Regions from separate parts of the Homo sapiens genome. Here region 2 is linked to region 1. The links come from fine-mapping of genetic effects on gene expression. A gene starts in region 1. The other region holds a variant in brackets. All regions are shown on one strand. Distances are from middle to middle.

The links.
Region 2: its variant is fine-mapped to the expression of CPO in tibial nerve (GTEx, PIP 0.98).

Annotation. Positions count from the first base shown.
Region 1 is chr2:206,934,731-206,943,067 of GRCh38, forward strand. It overlaps CPO (carboxypeptidase O), which reads left to right and starts at 4,788. Exons shown (of 9, transcript NM_173077.3): 1 at 4,788-4,937. The coding sequence starts at 4,870.
Region 2 is chr2:206,805,341-206,813,677 of GRCh38, forward strand. No RefSeq gene overlaps it. Among named protein-coding and RNA genes, the nearest start is that of MIR3130-1, 26 kb to the left of the region's middle. RefSeq lists enhancers at 1,393-2,220, 6,211-6,826, 6,827-7,444. The variant A/G (reference allele first, on the strand shown) is at 4,481.

The DNA of each region.
Region 1 (8,337 bases):
AGATTGCTGGGGTTTCTGGTGGAAATCCAACTCCTCTTTAAAACCTCCTCCATTTCCTCACCCTCCATCTCTACTCTTAGCACTTGAGAGTGTACATTTCGTCTTTGCTCCTCTTCCCTCCCCAGATGATCCAAATAGAAAATACATCAGCACGTGGGAAAGAGCAACGTTGATCGTCTTCACGGAAAGGCTGAGGACCCTGCGCCTACCACATGTTGGCCAGGGTGAGCAAGCAGTGAAAGAGAAAACACTTTTTTCAAAAAGCCAACTGGTAAGGAATGTTACTAAGCTACCATGTAATTTTCTGTAGCTTTCTGGCTGGGTGTCACAAGCCTGTTAAGGCCTAGCCATGTAGGATTATCCCTGTTACTTCCAAACTTCAGTTTTGTTTCTGAATTTAATTATCCACAAAGTTTCAGAAAGATCCACATAGCTCAAGATCAATTACATTCATTTATTTTCATGTTTTCTGGGATCTGGCTGGTGTGTTGGCTGGATCATCTGAAAAGCAGATACCAAGATGGAGTTGAAAGTAGAAGAGATTTTAGGGGTGTAATTTTTGTGAAAGATAAAGGGGAGAAAAAGCAAGAGAAAGCAAGGAGAGCCTTACACCCAGATCTGACACCTGTGAAAAGATAGAAGGAGGAAAGGAAGATTGGCCAGAAAGGCCTCAGACTGTGGTACAGCCACAAGAAATTTGCTCCTAGAGGCACCTTGCATTGGTTCAATGGTGAGCATTTATGCCAGTTCTGTGCTCAGTCATTGGTTAGAGGATGTCCAGGTAGCACATAGTCCCAGCTTGAATACAGAGTCAGATTCTGAAGCTACCCATAGCGAGAAATTGACAGCGGTTTCTTTCTTGAAGGTAGAGCTGACTTGCACACTTCCACAGCTGGGCAAAGGAAAGAAGATGGTCACAGCAAGCTAAGTCCCTACCTGTGTATATGAGGGCTACATCTAGTCAGTGGATTTATGCCATCTGACTAGAACATAGATACAGATTCATCCATGCATCCGTGCATCTGTGGACCCATGTATCCATCCATCCATCCACCCATCCATCCATCCATCCATCCATCCATCTATCCATCTGCTCATTTCTTGCTTTAGATGATGGCAGCAATCTGCTGAAGCTTCTGTCAGAAGAACCTCTCCTTGGTGCTGCCTCAGAAATCAAATCTAGATTTTGCCTCTTCTGCTAGTAAGGCTGTAAGTTCTGAGTGTCAACCAGCTTATATCTCCACCCAACCTGCCTCCAGCTCTCCTTGTGACCATAAGTCAATGTATTATCCATCTGAGACCAAGCCCTTAACCACACCTTAATTGCTGCCAGTCTGATATACCAATTATTTGAATCCCACTGGTACTTTGCTCCACTAGGTGGGTCATAATTCATGTTATAGTCCCTTTGATTCAGTGTTCCAGGCACAAACAATGCACACCAAGCAAGTGATGAAGTTTATTGCAATGTCCTTGGGTTCAGGGTCAATGAGAGCAACTGACAAGCAGCAGAGGTAGTGACCTGACTTGGCTGTGTGCCTTCCAGTTCTTAAGTCACTGAAGCTGTTCACCTTCAACATGACCCTGGCTTTTGGTAATAATATTTCATAGCAGCCTCTATCCAACTAATGTGGCAACAAGCCATGCAATTTTGAGCCCAGAGAAATCTTGGGCCTTTTGAGAGCACATTATTTTGGAGGATGAAGTCGGTGGAAATGTGTAGGGCTTGGCAGGTAATAAAAAGAGGTTGATTTTTTAAACAAATAATTCTACCAATTAGAATATAATTCTCTTTGAAATCAGCTATCTCTAAGGTCCTTTCATTTCTTTCATCCCATTACTTACTCCATCAAAGAACGCAAGTTTCACCATAATTGAAACCAATTCCCCCCCCTTTTTCCCCTAGAACAATGTTTATGTGTTGGCAGGCTTTCTCTCATGTGGCTTAAAGGACCACATGTGTTTGCAGGCATTCTATCAAGTAGTTTAAAGAGCATAAAACTTGCAGTAATATTTTTGGGAGTAAATTTTATTGTTATGGCTTTAAAACACAATCAAATAAAAATAAGAATATCCATTAGTAGTTGAATATTGTAATAATAGAGTTGAGAACAAATTTTACTGTTATAGGAACTATAAAACAGCAATAATAAAACACTATTATTGTGAATAAATTGTGTGGAGATGACTAACTAGAAAGCTATAAAACACAACGATAAGAAATAATCTAATCACCAGGAAAGATGTGATAATAATTCACCCTTGTTAGTGAGGAGCCCATGGTTCCACTTCATTGGCCCTGAGTTCCCTGGGTTACTGCTTGCATTCCATAAGGTTACAGAAAGATAATCTTTGGCCAGGGGGGTTGGCAGGAGACCACATATTACAGTGAAATTGGACGTGGGGATTGAGGAAAATCCAATTATCAGTGACAGTTAAGAAAATCCTGTGTAGTAATATCAAATGTCCTCACAACACATTTAAAAAATTATTTGCAGGTTTTTACTAACAATTTGTGTGTATTATTTGACTACATTTTTATGTGTTTTTAAACTTTTATTTATATTCTTTTGTTTCAGAATAACTGTATGGAACTACATATTGGTAGCAGGGGAAGCCTTTTGCAGTCTTTCTTTTTATTTAGACTACCCATACGTCCCTTTGCCATGAATCCATCTCAGCCCATTCCAATTAGCAAGAGTATGGAAAGATGACACCCTTAACTTCCAGGTCCCCCTCTCTTTCTGTGGAACTGACAGCACCATTAGAACCCTTGCTCCAAAATTAGTACTACCAAGGTTCCTGCCAGTCCCCTCACTTGGGTGAGGAAGAGAGTGGCATGAGTGTTGCATTTTACCCCTCATTCTGAACAGCAAAATTCAAATTCAGGATTTTTGAATTAACTAAATCCCAAGGGAAGGATGCAAAATGCTAACAATGCAGTTTTCTTTAAGGTGCCATTATCGTAGGCAAGCTATGCTGAGTTTTCTATACTCACCGCCTCCACTTTCTCACTTCCCTTTCCTTCTTTAACCAGCTCCAGGCAGGCGTTTGTCCCCACCACGTTATCTACTGAAATTGCTCTTTTCAAGGTCTCCAGGAGCCTCTATCCTGCTGGTTATGATTGGTTAGTTCTTCGTCCTCGTTTGACCAGTGGGTAACTCCCATTTTTTTTGTTTTTAATGCTTTCCTCATTTGGCTTCTGGGACACAATAGTCACCCATTTTTTAACTACCTCACTGGCTGTTCTTCACAATTCCCTCGCTGGATTCTTCTCTTCTACCAAGTCCTCTAAATGTTAGGTCAGCCCAGGTCTCAGTCTTTGTCTTTCTCTGTCTATACCCACACCCTAGATGAACTCCTCTAGCCCAGTGGCTTTAAACACCATCGTGATATTGTGATACAATAGGAAATACATATTTTGTCTTTGTCCCTGGTTCCTGACACAGAGCTCCTAAAACCCTTGGAATTTCCTCAGTGATAAGATCAATAAAGGTGAAAGGGCCATTTTTGTTATTCATGACGTCCCTTTTGACTATGTCTAAGTTTAAGTGAACAGGTAACTTTTGGAAAGTTTCTAAGGATAGCGGCTGGTTGCCAGGAGAATCAGCCATGTTATTCAGTAATCCCCTCCCATCTCTGGGGAGGAAAGAGGGACTGGAGATTTATTTAATCACCAATGACCAATGATATGATCAATCATACCTATGTAATGAAGTCTTCATAAAAACACAAGGGAACAGAGTTTGGAGAGCCTCTGGGTTGCTAAACACATGGAGGGACTGGGTGGATGGCATGCCTGGAGACAGCATGGAAGCGCTTATCTCCTCTAGTTTTTTAACTGCATTCTCTTTACTTGAAACTGTAACATTTGTTTGTATACTCGTTTATTTTTCTCTCAACTCTACTGTGAGTTCCATAAAAGAAGGGACTCTGCCTTGTTCACCCTTGTATCTTAAGTATCTAGCATAGTGTCTGGTATACAGTGGTACTCATGAGATTTTTGTAGAATGAATACATGAATACAGGGCAGAAGATTTAAACTGGGTCCCTAAATGCCAAGGACTCCATTTAAATACTCTACCTGCTCTGCGCTAAAGTTTGCCTTGCTCAGTTAGACTATTAGCAATGGTCTTAACATGAGTCTTTAATTTTACTGGTCAATGAGATTCAAGCATAACTTGGCTATGTCTGAAAACATGGCGGAGTATCTGACAGAGTCCTTCATGTAAGAGGGGCGTGGGGTAAAATCCACATGGGAAAGGATTGAAACTGTCTTCACTGCTCAGATTTGAAGAGATCTGGGTTTGTTTAAGAAGCTGGTGATGTGGTTCATCAGAAAAAGAGAAGGCATTTGACCCCAATCAAAGCCTTAGATTGAAGGAGGAAGTGGAGATTCTGAATAATGACCATGTCCATTTTGACCAGAGCAGAGTGTTCTTTCTGGTCTCATGAACAGGCTCATGATTCACAAAGACTAGCCTACTATTCCCATTCAACCTGTGTGAGGGGAAGAGCAGGAATGATTGCTCCTGAGCACGAGTGATGGGGGTTCCTAGAAATACTCCAAGGTGACTTTACATAGGGAGGAAATTTATTTCAGGATCTGGTGAAGTTGAGAGCTCACGTAAATTTGGTTTTAGAGAAGAAATGAAATATCAAATGGTACAGCATTTCCCACACTGGAAAAGGTGTTTGAGGACATGAGAGAGTTAATAAAGCAATTGCCCGTGACTTTCTGCTGAGACATCCACTAACTGATTTATCTCATCTTGATTGTGGGAGCCACAGTCTTGATGCATTCATTCTCAAGGACACTTGATCCACTGCCAGAGAGGCCCAGAATTTTCTAACTTACTGTGTGGCAGAATGAAGCCTCTGCTTGAAACCCTTTATCTTTTGGGGATGCTGGTTCCTGGAGGGCTGGGATATGATAGGTGAGTGTAAAGTGGGAAGAGGAACTGATTATTATAATTTAGATTGTCTAAATTGAATGGTTTCTTTTTAAGACCAATGCAGCTGGCTTCTCCTTCCTTGCTACTCATATATACCACCATGAGATGAGAATAATAAAGACCACTGAAATTTATCACTGAATAATCATAATCCTCTAATAATCCTTGAATAAATGAATAAATATCTAGCAAACATTTCCTAACACAATGCATGAGATATACAAATAGACATGTCATGTTTTGTGATTGGAAAAAGAAAATTGTAATACAAATTCTATATCCTTCATTTTCATAGTATCTCATTTGGTAAATCACATTATCCTAATTATTAAGAAAAATGTTAAAATGACCAAATAATTTCACCTAGAGATAAGTACTATTAATGTTTTCAGATAGCTACCTGATTATGTATGCAGCACTATTTCTGAAATATTTCACTTAAATTGTATTACAGAAATTTTCCTATGGCATTAGCAATTTATTTAAAACAGTTGAAATTGCTAATAATATTCTGTCATTTAGTCAATTCCTGCTTTTTCATTTTTACAAATAATGCTGTGATGAGCAACCAGCTACATAATTTTTTTTGCTTTTTGCAAATCTTTAATTATTTCTCTAAGAAGTGGAATTACTGGGTCAGTAACTGAGGAAAATGTAAGGATCTTGCTACACATTGCCCAATTACCCTCTAGAAAGATTACATCAGTCTACACTTCCAATAACAGTGTATGAAAGCACTTTTTAAGTGTTTGGCAAATTGACAAGTAAAAAATACACATTGTTGACTTCCTTTGTATTTTGTTGATTTATAAGAGTAAATATTTTATTACTAATTTTATCATTTTATAAATTGCCCATTAATGTCATTTGCCCATTTTTGTGGTCTCTCCCTACTCTTAATGAATCATAAGTTCTCTAAATACATTCTATTGAAATCTGTGTGTGTGTATGTGTGTGTGTATAGTTTCCATATAAAGTGTGTTTTTCCCTTGTTCATATGCAAATCATTATTTTGCTCATTTAGCATATCTCATGAAGTATATGTGGTTATAATTGGTATTTCCTCTTTTGCTTCATGGTTAAAGAAATCTTGCAATGAACTTGCTCTCACATAACATAGAAACCCACTCCAATTTTTGTCCCACAATAATTGTGTGACCTCAGCTTGTTCCTTATCTTCAGTTCAATTTCAGATACTTACAGAGTCCAGGATCTCTGTGATATCAAAAACCTGTTTGAATATTTCTTTCTCATTTTTCCATTAGTTTACTTGGTTTCATGTACATAGGGCATTTATTTTCCTTTCTGAAATTCCTCATCCATAAATTGGAAATGAAGACTCTTACATATTTTACAGGAAATACAAAAAAAATTATGCTGCTTAAAAATATCAAGAGCCTTAAAACATAAATCTTTTGGCCTAGTGTTCCTGCCTCTGGACATCTATACTGAGGAAATAAACTAAAGTCTGAAAGAGTTTTATGCAGCTCTGGGATACAACTTTATTTATAATATATATATTCTAATATTTGGAAACAACTTGAATGTCTATGTTAGGTTATGTAAATGCTGATATGTGATATAGGACAATGGGATATTATTCATGCAATAGAAAAATAAGTATAAAACTTTTTAATGGCATAGGAAAATGTATGTTTTATGCTAAAGGAAAGAGGCTGTATATAAATCTAATGGAGTACTTTAAAAAATAAAATAAAAATATGTACTAAAATGGTAATTGTTATCTTTGGTTGGTGATATTTTCTCCCTTCCCTCAACTATTATTCATTTTGCAAATATCGTACAATGAACATGACATAAAACTTTAATTTAAAAAATTAGATTCCAAGCCCAGGTTAAATTATTGAAGTGACTAGGCTCAGGCAGTGGGACTCAGATGAGACAGCTTCCATTGGATGGTTCCTCATGACTGCACTTGACCGTGCTTGTCTTTATTGGCTGTTTTTATTTAAATTATTAGTTATTGATATAAAAAATAATGGTCACTTTTATGTAACTCTCGCCAACTCAAAACATGTTAGCTGCAATTTTTGATAATCTTTATTCACTACATGTGATAATAGTCTAGAAAATTTAAAATTAATAAAGATTACAAGCTTTGTAATATTTCTCTTGAGCATTTAGGGAGGTAATCTCCCATATGTTATATATTGCATACATCCTGAAAAAGTGTAACTCTGTATAATCATTTGGGATTTAGCAATATCAATCAAATGGCTTGAAAATGTTCATCTTCTTTGATCTACTAATTCTTCTTTCTGGAACGTAGCTCAAGGAAACAATAAAAAATAAGAACAAAGATTTACACAATAAGGTATTATCTCTAGAATTATTTATAATAGTATAAAAACCAAAAGGGACATAGCTTTAATATCCAGCATAGAAGAAAATATTTAAATAAATGATACTATGTAACATATACTTACTGTCAAATAGTGTGCAACCATTAAAGAGTTTTCATTGGTTTGAGGAAATGTCTTTGGTAGAATACAGAATACAAAGAAACGAATACAAAATTATATATAGATATAATCTGCCCTGCATTTAAGAAAAATAAATGCACAGATAAAAGTCTGGAAGGAAACATGCCAAAATATCAGTAGCAGTTAACTCAGGGAGGTGGAATTATTGATAATTCTTCTCTTTTCTATTTTTCTCCTCCTTTTTTACCTCTCCATACCTTCTACGTTTTCCATGTTAGGCATATGTTAATTTTGTAAGCAGAAAAATAAAGTTTGAAAATACAGAACTATCATGAAATATTCATGTAACTATTTCTTCACCAAGTATTTAAAATACAAAATTTGCCTCAATATTCATTAGGATTTTTTTGCCTCTTTATACATTCCAGTCAAAATGCTATCAGACCATCATCTTTGATCTGCAGACTTTATTAATAATGTACCCCAAAGGATCATTTTCTCTATTAAACATTTTATGAATTCCTGTTCAAAAAGAATACACAAAGTACAATAATCTTTTCATTTGATCAGTGAGATGAGACTGGTGATAATTTGGGAGATTAGCCAGCTTTTTCCTCCCCTCTCTACATGTTTTATGCATCACCCAAGAAATTGCCTAGAAACAGAGAATAGCCTTTTCTAAGTATATGGTTTAAGCATTCATTTGAACAAAGTATTCGAGTTTCTGAGGTTTACATATTGTGTTTCAGTTTCATATACAAGTGATAAGCATTTTTAATATCGGGGCTTTCACTTAAATCCCAGACCATTCACTTTTTTTGCATATGAAATGGACCCAGTTGCTCAATGCTGGGCTTAGGAAGTAACAGACTCACATTTTGTAGACATTGTAGCCAAGAGTAAGGCAAATGCCTGAGGGTGTTAGGTTATCTTTATTT
Region 2 (8,337 bases), 130 kb before region 1:
ATATACTAGGATATGAAGTTAACAATACATTTTACATGGGTACCTTTCTGTCAAGTTGGAATGAATTTCCGCATGAATAAGAAAGGCCCATTTTCTCTTCATTTTTGTATTTTGAATAGTAGAGAGGCAAGGGAGAGAGAAGGAGGGCCACTGGGCTGAGAATCAGGAGACCTGGGTTCCAGCCACTGCCTCTGTCATTTAAATTCTCTAGGATGCCTGTTATTCCAGCACTTTGAGAGGTGGGCAGATTGCTTGAGCCCAAGGGTTCGAGACCAGCCTGGACAACATCGTGAAACCCTGTCTCTACAAAAAAAATACAAAAATTAGCTGGACTTGGTGGCATACATCTGTAATCCCAGCTACTCAGGTGGCTGAGGTGGGAGGATTGCTCGAGGCTGGGAGGTTGAAGCTGTAGCGAGCCATGATCGCACCACTGCACTCCAGCCTGGGCAAGAGAGGGAGACCCTGTCTCAAAAAAAAAAAAAAGAGAGAAAAGAAAAGAAAAAGGAAAAGAAATTCTCTAGGTCTTGGTTTCCTCAGTGATATAACAGTCAAGTTGGGATAGACCTTCTCTAAGATGTGGTGCTCTCCCTTCTTCGCAAATGCTTAGCATAAGCCCAGATTTCCAATTCCAACATCTGGTCAAAGGCCTTCCCCCTTGCCCCAAACCATGACTTAAGCTTGTAGAAGTGTATGCTGTCATCCTAGGACTAAGAATGTGCAGTGCCTCATAAATCAAATTCAACATTAAATTGCACTGCAAACAAAAAGTTTCACATGGTTACAATGTTGCTGTATGGAATTTAATGAGCTCCATATGCCTGACCTCTGGATATAAATGATTTGGGGAACTGTAGCTGTGAAAGAGTCTAAGGGCATCAGCATCTGGTGGTGTGAGTTACACAGAGTGAAGAGAATCGACCTCATTTTTGTACTATTGCCAAGCTTGGAAAGGTAGAAATACTCTGCAATCGGTATGCTCACCTTCTGAGAGAATGCTGACAGTTTTCCAGAATTTTTCTCACTCATCAGGAAGTTGTGGAGTCCAGTGGATTCTGACTTCCTTCCTGCAGTGCTCCCAGACACTCGTGCCTGTGAGGCCACTGGGCTTTCACTCTGTCCTGGGGAGAGCAGGCTCTCTTGTTGGACATATCGGTGACTTTTGATTGACTACTTGTACTTGTTTTGGTCGTCTCTGCTACCCATAAAAAGGTTCTGCCTAAAACCCAGATCTGACAATGTTATCAATGTTATTCTTCTCCCTTATTTAAACAATTCAGGACTCCTCTTTTTTGTTTGTTTTTAGACAGAGTTTCTTTTGCTCTTGTTGCCCAGGCTGGAGTGCAATGGTGTGATCTCAGCTCACCGCAACCTCCGCCTCCCGGATTCAAGAGATTCTCCTGCCTCAGCCTCCTGAGTAGCTGGGATTACAGGCGTGCACCACCATGCCCGACTAATTTTGTATTTTTAGTAGAGACGGGGTTTCTCCATGTTGGTTTTCACACGCGTCCGTGTGAAGAGACCACCAAACAGGCTTTGTGTGAGCAACATGGCTGTTTATTTCACCTGGGTGCAGGCGGGCTGAGTCAGAAAAGAGTCAGAGAAGGGAGATAAGGGTGGGGCCGTTTTATAGGATTTGGGTAGGTAAAGGAAAATTACAGTCAAAGGGGGTTTGTTCTCTGACAGGCAGGAGTGGGGGGTCGCAAGGTGCTCAGTGGGGGTGATTTTTGAGTCAGGATGAGCCAGGAAAAGGACTTTCACAAGGTAATGTCATCAGTTAAGGCAAGGACCGGCCATTTACACTTCTTTTGTGGTGGAATGTCATCAGTTAAGGCGGGGCAGGGCATATTCACTTCTTTTGTGATTCTTCAGTTACTTCAGGCCATCTGGGCGTATACCTGCAAGTCACAGGGGATGCGATGGCTTGGCTTGGGCTCAGAGGCCTGACATTCCTGCCTTCTTATATTAATAAAAAAAATAAAACAAAATAGTGTTGAAGTTTTGGGGCGGTGAAAATTTTGGGGGGGTGGTATGGAGAGAGAATGGGCGATGTTTCTCAGGGCTGCTTCAAGCGGGATTAGGGGCGGCGTGGGAACCTAGAGTGGGAGAGATTAAGCTGAAGGGAGGTCTTGTGGTAAGGGGTGATATTGTGGGGTTGTTAGAAGAAACATTTGTCGTATAGAATGATTGGTGATGGCCTGGATACGGTTTTGTATGAATTGAAAAACTAAATGGAATAACAGAAGGAGAAAAACAGGTATAAAAGGTCTAAGAATTGGGACGACTCAGGATATCTGATTGGAGAGTGCTTAAGGAGATTCAGCATAGTCCTGCCAGCAAAGATTATTTATTTACTTCAAGAGTTAAGAGTGGCAGTTTGGGGACAGCACCAGGAGATATCAGCTGTGATGGCTTGGAGAAACAGTGTAAACTGGCAGTGTAAACAAGAGCAGGTCATGTATGAGTAGTTGAGAACGGTGAATAGGAGTATGACTAGACAGAAAATAGGAGTATGACAAGTTTTTTTTTGGGGAGGTAGGCACAGTCTAAGTTGGTCTGGTGTCTGGAATGAGACTGGGGCCTAATAAAAAGGAGCGTCTATACAGGAGCTTAAATGGGCTGTACCCTGTAGCATTCCGAGGACAGGCCTGAATTCTGAGAAGGGAAAGTGGTAAAAGTATTGTCCAGTCCTTTTTGGTGGCTGAGCTTGGTGAGGTGTGTTTTTAAAAGACCTTCAGTCCATTCTACTTTTCTTGAAGACGGAGGACCGTAAGGGATATAAAGGTTTCACTGAATACTAAGAGCCTGAAAAACTGCTTGGCTGATTTGACTAATAAAGGCTCATCTGTTATCAGACTGTATTGAGGTGGGAAGGCTAAACTGAGGAATTATGTCTGACAGAAGGGAAGAAATGACTGCAGTGGCCTTCTCAGACCCTGTAGGAAAGGCCTTTACTTATTCAGTGAAAGTGTCTATTTAGACTAAGAGGTATTTTAGTTTCCTGACTCAGGGCATGTTGAGTAAAGCTAATTTGCCAGTCCTGGGTGGGGCAAATCCTCGAGCTTGATGTGTAGGGAAGGGAGGGGGCCAGAATAATCCCTGAGGAGTAGTAGAATAGCAGATGGAACACTGAGAAGTTATTTCCTTGAGGATAGATTTCCACGATGGAAAGGAAATGAGAGGTTCTAAGAGGCGGGCTAGTGGCTTGTACTATAGTATAACCTGCCTTTGCTGGTGTGTGGCGATTAGGTCTGGTGGAACCGCCATCAATAAATCAAGCATGATTAGGGTGAGGAACAGGAAAGAAGAAAATCTGGGGAAATGGGGTGAATGTCAGGTGGATCAGAGAGATACAGTCATGGGGTCAGGTGTGGTATCAGGAATAATGTGGGAGGCCGGATTGAAGTCTGGGGCAGGAACAACGGTAATTGTGGGAGACTCAACGAAGAGTGAGTATAGCTGAAGGAGCCGGGAAGCAGAAAGTATATGCGTCAGGTATGAGGAAGAAAATAGATTTTGGAAGTTATGAGAACTGTAGAGAGTGAGTTGAGCATAGTTTGTGATTTTAAGGGCCTCTAAAAGTATTAAAGCAGTGGCAGCCGCTGCTTGCAGACATGAGGGCTAGGCTAAAACAGTAAGGTCAAGTTGTTTGGACAGAAAGGCTACAGGGTGTGGTCCTGGCTCTTGTGTAAGAATTCTGACCGCGCTAACCATGCCTAGGAAGGAAAGGAGTTGTTGTTTTGTAGAAGGTGCTGGGGTTTGAGAGATTAGTCGGACACGATTGGCAGGGAGAGCACGTGTGTTTTTATGAGAATTATGCCGAGATAGGTAACAGATGAGGAAGAAATTTGGGCTTGATTGAAGTAATGGGGCTGTCTGTGAGCTTTGCGGCAGTACAGCCTAGGTAATTTGCTGAGCTTGATGGGTGTCAGGGTCAGTCCAAGTGAAAGCGAAGAGAGGCTGGGATGCAAAGGAATAGTAAAGAAAGCATGTTTGAGATCCAGAACAGAATAATGGGTTGTAGAGGGAGGTATTGAGGATAGGAGAGTATATGGGTTTGGCACCACGGGGTGGATAGGCAAAACAATTTGGTTGCTAAGGCGCAGATCCTGAACTAACTTGTAAGGCTTGTCTGGTTTTAGGACAGGTAAAATGGGGGAATTGTAAGGAGAGTTTATAGGCTTTAAAAGGCCATGCTGTAGCAGGCGAGTGATAACAGGCTTTAATCTTTTTAAAGCATGCTGCGGGATGGGATATTGTCATTGAGTGGGGTAAGGGTGATTAGGTTTTAATGAGATGGTAAGGGGTGCATGATCGGTCACCAAGGAGGGAGTAGAGGTATCTTATACTTGTGGGTTAAGGTGGGGGGATACAAGAGGAGGACGCAAAGGAGGCTTTGGACTGGGAAGAAGGGTGGCAATGAGATTTAGCTGTAGTCCAGGAATAGTCAGGGAAGCAGATAATTTAGTTAAAGTGTCTC[A/G]GCCTAATAAGGGAACTGGGCAGGTGGGGATAACTAAAAAGGAGCGCTTAAAAGAGTATTGTCTAAGTTGGCACCAGAGTTGGGGAGTTTTAAGAGGTTTAGAAGCCTGGCCATCAATACCCACAACAGTTATGGAGGCAAGGGAAACAGGCCCTTGAAAAGAAGGTAATGTGGAGTGGGTAGCCTCCGTATTGATTAAGAAGGGGACTGGCTTACCTTCCACTGTGAGAGTTACCGGAAGCTCAGCATCCGTGATGGTCTAGGGGGCTTCCAAGGCGATCGGGCAGTGTCAGTCTTCAGCCGCTAAGCCGAGAAGTTCTGGGAAGGAGTCAGTCAGAGAGCCTTGGGCCAGAGTTCCAGGGACTCTGGGAGTGGCTGCCAGGTGAGTTGAACAGTCCGATTTTCAGTGGGGTCCCACACAGTTGGGACGCGGCTTAGGAGGAATCCCGGGCTGCGGGCATTCCTTGGCCCAGTGGCCAGATTTCCAGCACATTTAGCAAGCTCCTGGGGGAGGAGGTTCTGGAGGAACGCCTGGCTGCTGCGGTTCAGGCGTTTGGAAGTCTTGTGTGCTGGAGATGTGTCTGGGGTTTGTCTCACAGTGGAGGCAAGGAATTGCAACTTTTTTCTGTTATTGTACACCTTGAAGGTGAGGTTAATTAAGTCTTGTTGTGGGGTTTGAGGGCCAGATTCCAATTTTTGGAGTTTTATTTAATGTTGGAAGCAGATTGGGTAATAGAATGTATATTGAGAATAAGACGGCCTTTTGACCTTTTAGGGTCTAGGGCTGTAAAGTGTCTCAGGGTTGCTGCCAAACGAGCCATGAACTGGGCTGGGTTTTTATATTTGATGAAAAAGGGCCTAAACGCTTCTGATTTGGGATAAAGAAAAAGGAGCATTAACCTTGACTATGCCTTTAGCTCCAGCCACCTTTTTAAGAGTAAATTGCTGGGCAGGTGGGGGAGGGCTAGTCACAGAACGAAACTGTAAGCCGGACCAGGTGTGAGGAGGGGAGGCGATAAAAAGATTACAGGGTGGAGGAGCGGAGGCTGAGGAAGAATGGGGACCTAGCTTGGGCTAGCGAGGAGGGGAGAGGTCAGATGGGTCTGTAGAAAAGGAAGATTAGAAAGACTCAGCGACGCTTGGGGTTGGGACTGAGGGGACAGGCGGGAGGGAAAGAAGGAAGATTTGGGACAAGTTGCACTGGGCACAGAGACTAGGAAGGGACTGATGTGTAAAAGAATGCCTGGACGTCAGGCACCTCAGACCGTTTGCCTATTTTACGACAAGAATTATTTAGATTGTGCAGGATGGAAAAATTCAAAGTGCCATTTTCTGGCTATTTGGAACTACTGTTGAGTTTGTATTGGGGTCAAGCGGCATTGCAGAAGAAAATAAGGCATTTAGGTTTTAGGTCAGGTGTGAGTTGAAGAGGTTTTAAGTTTTTGAGAACACAGGCCAAGGGAGTAGAAGGAGGAATGGAGGGTGGAAGGTTGCCCATAGTGAAGGAAGCAAGCCTAGAGAAAAGAGAGAGTAGAGAAACGGAGGGAAGGGGTTCAGGAGTTCTTACCTTCCAGAAAAGTGGGAAAAGGGGTTGGGGTGCAGAGATAAGAGGTTGGGGCACAGAAATAAGGGATTGGGGCACAGAGATAAGAGGTTGGGGTGTGGAAATAAGGGATTGGGGTGCAGAGATAAGAGGTTGGGGTATGGAAATAAGGGATTGGGGCACAGAGGTAAGAGGTTGGGGTGTGGAAATAAGGGATTGGGGGTTCTTGCCCTGTAGAAAAGCGGGACTTGCCGCTAAGGGTGAAGGAGAAGGGGTTGAGGGGTACTTGCCCCTCTCCCAGAAAAGCAGAGAAGGGGTAGAGACAAGGAGAGAAGGGGTTGAGGTACTTGCCCCTTCCCCAGAAAAGCGGGACTTGCCGCTAAGGGTAAAGGACCAAGGCAGGCATCCCTACGTGGTCTGACACCCTTGAAACGTGGGTGTATAATCAGGCGTCCCTGCAATGATTAAACACCAATGGAGGGCTGCCTTCCCAGTCCGTGACCGGCGCCGGAGTTTTGGGCCCACGGATAAAACGTGTCTCCTTTGTCTCTCCCAGAAAATGAAAGGAATTGAAATTAAGAAAAGGGAGAGATTGAAGAGTGGAAAGGAGAAAGTGGTTGAGGGACAGTGAGAGAGGTTGGAGAAGAGAGTAAGACGCCGTTTACCTGATTTAAAATTGGTGAGATGTTCCCTGGGCTGGTCGGTCTGAGGACCTGAGATCGTAGGTGGATCTTTCTCATGGAGCAAAGAACAGGAGGACAGGGGATTGATCTCCCAAGGGAGGTACCCCGATCTGAGTCACGGCACCAAATTTCATGCGCGTCCGTGTGAAGAGACCACCAAACAGGCTTTGTGTGAGCAACATGGCTGTTTATTTCACCTGGGTGCAGGCGGGCTGAGTCCGAAAAGAGAGTCAGAGAAGGGAGATAAGGGTGGGGCCGTTTTATAGGATTTGGGTAGGTAAAGGAAAATTACAGTCAAAGGGGGTTTGTTCTCTGGCGGGCAGGAGTGGGGGTCGCAAGGTGCTCAGTGGGGGTGATTTTTGAGTCAGGATGAGCCAGGAAAAGGACTTTCACAAGGTAATGTCATCAGTTAAGGCAATGACCGGCCATTTACACTTCTTTTGTGGTGGAATGTCATCAGTTAAGGCGGGCCAGGGCATATTCACTTCTTTTGTGATTCTTCAGTTACTTCAGGCCATCTGGGCATATACATGCAAGTCACAGGGGATGCGATGGCTTGGCTTGGGCTCAGAGGCCTGACATTGGTCAGGCTGGTCTCGAACTCCTGACCTCAGGTGATCCACCCACCTCAGCCTCCCAAAGTGCTGGGATTACAGGCATGAGACTCCTCATTTTTTATGCACATACTGTCCAGTTGGGCCTGACCCACTTTTTAGACTCCTTGGTCATTATTTTCCGTCTTTGGCATTCTGTGCTCCAGCTACTCAGAGGTCTTCCCCAGCATTCAGATTTCATCTTTCGGAGCCTTTTCACATGCTTTGTACTCTGAGGAATCCCTGCCACCTCTTCACCTGGAAAGATTCTCCTATATGAGTGTAGATTGAACAACACTTTCCTGAGTTCTCTCTCCTCACGTGTTCCTGCCCCATTTGTGGTTAGTCTTTGCCATTTCTGTGTTCCCATGACCCTTAGATGCAGTGAGGGATAGAGAGAAAGGGCTGTATCTTCCCCCAGTAAACTGGGGAACTCTTCAGGAGTAAATATGTGTCTGATTCTTCCCTTTCTTTACTGAAGCAGCATATATTTGGCTGTCAGTAAATGCTGAGTGAACAAATGACGGAGTGTATGAATAAACAAAGTCCTCAGAAGCCAAGCAGAGTTTTCCTCTTTTAATGTTTCTTCACCATATTTCTCTGATTATGTTGCATATCATAATTTATGTCCATCAAAGGTTTAGGCCATACGTACATCCTTTTTGAAGGCTATCGTTCAAGGGCAGGAAAACAACTAATGTTCCTTTGACCTCAGGAAGTTGCTGTGAAACAGGACAGAAAATGTACCCCCTAATCAAAAATAAAAGTTAAAAAAAAAAAAAGAACAAGCCAATAGACTTGCTTGTCTCCACAAAATGCTCCCTGAACTCGTTAAGAATCTGGATGGAACTCATTAAGAATCTTGTCTGAGAGATGTGCTTTGGGTGCAGTCATTTTCTGTGTTAATGTTTTGCAAACAAATAGGTCTCCCAAATGGGAAACTGACCAGAGGCAATAATGTAGATCTTCATATAACAAAATTTAATTTTGACATTTTTGTACTTACCTTTATTTCTAACCCTGAGATACCCAATCCAT